Homo sapiens: one gene and its partner. The protein of the gene in region 2 purifies or fractionates together with the protein of the main gene of each other region. This does not show direct contact. Each region holds a gene or a part of one and is shown on either strand. Other genes may lie near its edges.

Region 1 (3,500 bases), on a different chromosome or scaffold from region 2:
ACTATTGAAGTCTACTATGAACACCTGTCTGCACACAAACTAAAAAACCTAATAGAAATACATAAATTTCTAGACAAATACATTCTCCAAAGACTGAACAAAAAAGAAACTAAATTCCTGAATAGACCAATAACAAATTCCAAAATTGAATAAGTAATAAATAGCCTACCATCCAAAATAAAGCCCAGGATTAGACAAATTTACAGCTGAATTCAACCAGACGTAAAACGAAGGGCCTGAACCATTCTACTAAAACTATTCCAAAATTGAGAAGAAGGGACTCCTCCTTAGCTCGTTATATAGAAACAGCAACATTCTGATGCCAAAACCTGGCAGAGATGAAACAAAAAATAGAAAACTTCAGGCCAATATTCCTGATAAACATTGATGAAAAAATCCTCAACAAAATGCTGGCAAACCAAATCCAGCAGCACATCAAGAAGCTACTCCACTATGATCAAGTAGGCTTTATCCCTGAGATGCAAGGTTGGTTCAACATGCAACAATTAATAAATGTTATTCATCACATAAAGAGAATTAAAGATAAAAACCAAAAAAATTATCTCAATAGATGCAGAAAAAGATTTCAATAAAATTTATCAGCCTTCATGTTTAAAATCCTCAACAAACTAGGCATTCAAAGTACACACTTCAAAATAATGAGTTATCTATGACAAGCCCAAAGTAAACATACTGAATGGATACAAGCTGAAAGCGTTTATCTTTGAAAACTGGCATATCGACTGGGCGCGGTGGCTCACGCCTGTAATCCTAGCACTTTGGGAGGCCGAGACGGGCGGATCACGAGGTCAGGAGATCGAGACCATCCTGGCTAACACGGTGAAACCCCGTCTCCAGTAAAAATACAAAAAATCAGCCGGGCGTAGTGGTGCGCGCCTGTAGTCGCCTGTAGTCCCAGCTACTCGGGAGGCTGAGGCAGGAGAATGGCGTGAACACGGGAGGCGGAGCTTGCAGTGAGCGGAGAAGATTGCACCACTGCACTCCAGCCTGGGCGACAGAGCGACTCTGTCTCAAAAAAAAAAAAAAAAAAGAAAGAAAACTGGCATACCTTCTCTCACCGCTCCTATTTAAGAGAATTGGAAGTCCTGGCCAGAGCAATCAGACAAGAGATAAAATGAAAGGCATTCAAACAGGAAGAAAGGAAGTCAAACTATCCCTGTTTGCAGATGACATAATTCTGTATCTAGAAAACCCTACAGTCTCTGCAGAAAAGCTCTTTAAACTGACAAATCACTTCAGCAAAATTTCAGAATACAAAATAAATGTATAAAAATTGGCAGAATCTCTGTATATTAACAACATGCAAGCCAAAAGCCAAATCAAAAACACAATCCCCTTCACAACTGACACACACACACACACACACACACACACACACACAAATATCTAGGAGTACACCTAACCAGAGAAGTGAAAGATCTCTATGTCAAGAATCACAAAACACTGCTTAAAGAGTCACAGACGGCCAGGCACGGTAGCTCATGCCTGTAATCTCAGCACTTTGGGAAGCCGAGCCGGGTGGGTCATTTGAGGTCAGGAGATCGAAACCAGCCTGGCCAACACAGTAAAACTCCATCTCTACTAAAAACACAAAAATTACCTGGGCATGGTGGTAGGCACCTGTAATCCCAGCTATTCAGGAGGCTGAGGCAGGAGAATAGCTTGAACCCAGGAGGCAGAGGTTGTGGTGAGCTAAGACTGTGCCATTGCACTCCATCCTGGGTGACAGAGTGAGACTCGGACTCAAAAAAAAAAAAAAAAAGAAAAAGAAAAAAAAAAAAAAAGTCCGAGATAACACAAATAAATGGAAAACTATTCTATGCTCATAGGTAGAAAAGATCAAAATGATTAAAATGGCCATAATGCCCAAAAAAAGAAATGATTTAATGCTATTCTTATCAAACTACCAAAAACATTCTTAACAGAACTATAGAAAACTATGTTAAAATTCATATGGAAGGAAAAAAGAGCCCGAGTAGCCAAGGCAATCCTAAGCAAAAAGAACAAAGCTGGAGGCGTTACATTACCTGACTTCAAACTATACAATAGGGCTACTGTAACCAAAGCCGCATAATACTGGTACAAGAAACAGACTCACAGACCAATGCAACAGAATAGAGAGCCCAGAAATAATGCCACACGCCTATAACCAACTGATCTTTGACAAAACTAACAAGAGGAATGTGGGAAGAATTCCCTATTTAATAAATGGTGCTGGGATAAACACCTAGCACTGTGTAGAAAATTGAAACTGGACCCCTTCCTTACATCATATACAAAAATCAACTCAAGATGAATTAAAGCCTTAAATGTAAAACTTAAAATTATAAAAAACCCTTCAAGATAACCTAGAAAATACCATTCTAGACATGGGAACTAACAAAGATTTTATGATGAAAATACCAAAAGTAATGGCAACAGCAACAATTGACAAATGGGACCTAATTAAACTAAATATCTTCTTCACAGCAATGGAAACCATCAACAGAGTAAACACAAAACCTATAGAATAAAATAAAATATTTCCAAACTATGCTTTTGACAAAGGTCTAATATCCAGAATCCATAAAAAACTTAAGTTTACAAGAAACAAACAAACGACCTCCTTAAAAGGTAGACAAAAGGTGGCTGGGCTCCGTGGCTTATGCCTGTAATCCCAGCACTCTCAGAGGCCAAGACAGGTGGATCACCTGAGGTCAGGAGTTTGAGATCAGCCTGGCCAACATGATGAAACCCTGTCTTTACTAAAAATACAAAAAATTAGCCACGTGTGGTGGTGGACACCTATAATTCCAGCTACTCAGGAGGCTGAGGCAGGAGAATCTCTTGAACCCAGGAGGCGGAGGTTGCAGTGAGCCGAGATCACACCATTGCACTCCAGCCTGGGAAACAAGAGCGAAACTGTCTCAAAAAAAAAAAAAAAAATAGACAAAAGGCTAGGAGTGGTGGCTCACGCCTGTAATCCCAGCACCTTGGGAGGCCAAGGAGGAAAGAGCACTTGAGGTCAGGAGTTTGAGACCAGCCTGGCCAACAAGGTTAAACCTTGTCTCTACTAAAAATACAAAAATTAGCAGGGCATGGTGGCAAGTCCCTGTAATTCCATCCACTCAGGAGGCTGAGGCAGGAGAATCGCTTGAACCCAGGAGGTGAAGATTGCCGTTTGCTGAGATTATGCCACTGCACTTTAGCCTGGGCGACAGAGTGAGACTTCGTCTCAATTATAAAAAAAAAGGTAGACAAAAAACATGAACAAATGTTTTTCAAAATAAGATATATATGTGGCTAACAAGCATATGAAAAAAATACTCATCACTAGAGAAATGCAAAGAAAAAACCACAACCAGATTCCATCTCACACCAGTCAAAATGGCTGTTATTACAAAGTCAAAAAATAACATGCTGGCAAGGTTTCAGAGAAACGGCTATGTGCTGCTGGCATGAGTGTAAATTAGTTCAACCATTGTGAAAAGCAGTGTGGC
Region 2 (3,500 bases):
AGAAAGTAAACTGGCACTCAGCAAGAAGGCTGTCTTCATTTCTTCACTTATTACCACACTGGCAAGGAAACAGTTTCATAATGCTTACAGAAATGCTCACTGATAAGACAGTAAACTGCTCATTTCCAAAACACATAACAACTGACCACATCATGATTAGTGATTTTAGTTGCCAAAATCAACTCGTTTCTCGTCTTCCAGTTACCTAAGGGTATGAAGACAGATATGTCAAGTGAGAGACTGGCTCTTATCTCTAGACCCAGGCAAAAGGCAGCTAAAGGTTGAAGGTACCATCAGGCCTGGGACCCAGAGATAAAATTCAGAGTATTATTTTTGAAATGTTTTGTGGACAACTTGCCAGGATATACATGGGAAAAACTCGAGGGTAGAACAGGAGTGATAAGATGATCCACTTTAGATTTTGGAAAACAAAAAATATCAAGTTCCTGGGAGAAGGAACTATGGGTGAAGTTTTAAATCTCAGAGTGGTGGTTCTCAATCCTGGCTGCACACCAGAATCACTTGCACAGACTTTTTAAATTATGAATGCCCAGGACCCACGGGTTCAATCTAGGCTTAAAGAATCAGAAAAAGGCCAGGCACAGTGGCTTATGCCTGTAACCCCAGCACTTTGGGAGGCTAAGGTGGGAGGATCATTTGAAGCCAGGAATTTGAGACCAGCCTGGGCAACATGGTGAGACCCCCATCTCTACAAAAAAAAAAAAGATAATAAATTCCTAGGAAGGGGCCCCACACACCCCTATTTTTTTTTTTTTTAAGTTCCTCATGAGGTCAGGAGTTTGAGACCAGCCTGGCCAACATGGCGAAACCCATCTCTACTAAAAATACAAAAATTAGGCCGGTGTGGTGGTGGACACCTGCAATCCAGCTACTCAGGAGGCTGAGGCAGAAGAATTGCTTAAACCGGGAAGGCAGAGGTTAAAGTGAGCTGAGATCGCGCCACTGAACTCCAGCCTGGGTGACAGAGCAAGACTGTCTTGAGGGAAAAAAAAAAGTTCCTGAGGAGATTCTGATGCACAGCCACCACTGAGAACAACTGCCAAGAACTACTGTCAAGACACATTCCAAAATGGACAAGACCACTAAACTCAGGCTCCAGAGTCGACAAATAAATGACTTAAAAACTTAACCCAGCTTCTCAGTTGTTCCACATTTCCCTAATGGAAAGGTCTCCACCAAGTAGCAGTAGGTATATCTCAGCCTCCCCCCATTACCAAATTAAGGGCCACAAGTTTTTCACAGTTAAATTACTTGGCATCTTCATTTCTAGCTCTAGTTCTAACAGGTGGCTCGGCCTAGAGGTCAGAATACCAGTCAGCAAGTTTCTGCTGCTGATTCATGCTGTAATCACAAGCAAGTTGCTTACCCATCATCCAGAGTAGTTGACAAGCACCTCCAGAGGGGCAACATATGGCCTTACTACAGAATCAACTGACAACAAATTGAATCCAGCTGAAATTAGTAATTCTGAATGAAAGGAAGAGAGAGGTGGTATCAGGAATGATGCACATGCCAGTAAGTTATCTGCTTGCTAAGTGTGATTATACAAAGCTTATTGAAAAATACCGCCTAGGACTTCATAAAAATTTACTTGGACAAATCACTCTTAACACTGCTAAGCCTCTATTTTCTTTTCTGTGAAACAGGACTAATATTCTACCATACTTCCTCATAGAATCATGAGGATTAAGAAAGAAAACTTCTGTAAAATGCCTACCATAGTGGCTGACACACAGTTTTACTATGATTTGAAAGCCTATCATTAATAAATCCAAAGCGTTCCTGTCAAGAGCACCCACTAGACTTCCAATGAAGCCATATAAACCAAGGAATCCAGCCAACGGGCCCTGAAATTCTTTTAATTTCTCTAAGTGGTTTTACTGAAGGCTTCAAATCACCTCAATTTTCAAAGCCATTAAAATCTCCAGGTCCATTTACAGCTCAGAGGCATTCTTCAAGGCAGATTACCACTAGTAACCTGGTTTCTGGTACCAGAATAACAGGAAGAATGCCAGGGCAGTGCTTCATACCACCAACCTCAAAATAACTGCCTCATAATACCTGACCTTCCCTTAACCTCCCTGGCAGTTCTATCGGCCCAGGGGGATGGGACAAGAGCCTGGTTCCTGGCCAGAGTCCACTGCCTGCCCATAAACGGCCTACCTTCTCTCTTGCCTCTCTTTCTTTGCTCCCTCTAAATGACTTTCCCCACTTTCTAACCCACCTTCTCTCCTCTGAGCTATATTCACAGGATATTTACTGCTGCATGTTCTCAGAAATACCTATTAACACTACTGGAATGAAGCTGTAGGAATATAATCAAGAAAAGGAATGTTATATAAATGTTCAGGCAATTAGCCCAGGCAAAGAAACTGTGGTATGCGACTCTAGCCGGAAAGATCAAGAAAATCCTGGTAGCCAAATTTACATATTTCCTGTGTACAAATGAAGGGCAAATTTAAGCCAGCCACTGGAACAAAATCTCAAAGAAATTAATCATGTAGCTAGGAAGCAAATGGCCATTAATGACAGTTTACAGAATAGAAACCAAAGGGCTTTCTTCCACGAGGTAGAAAAGGGGGAGAAAAAAAGTGACTTAAATATTTGAATACTGAAAACTCTTGCTCTTTTCACCTTGACAAAAGATAAACTATCTTTTCACCTTACGCTTGTTTTCCCCTCAACTCAGTACTCTGTAATTCAAGAGGTCCTTTCAATGATTCCCAGCAGAATCAAGTATATGAAGTGTTCAGCTTATGAGATACTGCAGAAATCTTTTTATGGGATTATGCGGAGCTTGAGTGTACCCTTTTGTTAGAGCAACCATCTCATCGTGAAGTCACTGCATCAGAGCTCCTGAGTATCTGCTGTAGTAGCACTGGTCTTAGCTGTTACGTTCCTAAGGCAGCTTAGTTTCAACTTTAAAAATCAGCCAATATCCAGTTTCCTAACCTTTTAATCTCCACATATCCTGCCTTTTAATTTGTTCCTAAATGCAAGCAGTGGATTATGGCTAGTGAAGAAGCATGGATTTGGCTACAAAGCCCATCCTTCCTTGCTAAACGAACACGCACAGCAGAAGCCAGAAAAGCAGACACTGGCGGTGGCAAACATGGTCAAGCTTTCTAACACACACATTAAACAAAAAAAAAAGAATGCTGCCTCAAGGCACATATGTGTTATTTGTAAAATCTAACAAAGGGCCTTTACATGAGTTTTTGTTTTTTTAGACGGGCTGGAGTGCAATGGTGCAATCTTGGCTTACTGCAACCTCCGCCTCCCGGTTTCAAGGGATTCTCCTGCCTCAGCCCCCCGAGTAGCTGGGATTACAGGTGCGCACCACCACGCCGGACTAATTTTTTGTACTTTTAGTAGAGACGGGGCTTCACCATGTTGGCCAGGCTGGTCTCAAACTCCTGAACTCAGATGATCCACCTGCCTCGGCCTCCCAAAGTGCTGGGATTACAGGCGTGAGCCAC

The links. The genes of interacting proteins can lie anywhere in the genome.
Region 1: the proteins of RNF10 (region 2) and ZNF729 purify together in Homo sapiens (co-immunoprecipitation; one large-scale study listed by IntAct). This does not show direct contact.

The regions. Positions count from the first base shown.
Region 1 is NC_000019.10:22,292,941-22,296,440, reverse strand, and holds part of ZNF729 (zinc finger protein 729), read right to left. Parts: intron 1-3,500. UniProt on the Homo sapiens protein: May be involved in transcriptional regulation.
Region 2 is NC_000012.12:120,537,356-120,540,855, reverse strand, and holds part of RNF10 (E3 ubiquitin-protein ligase RNF10), read right to left. Parts: intron 1-3,500. UniProt on the Homo sapiens protein: E3 ubiquitin-protein ligase that catalyzes monoubiquitination of 40S ribosomal proteins RPS2/us5 and RPS3/us3 in response to ribosome stalling.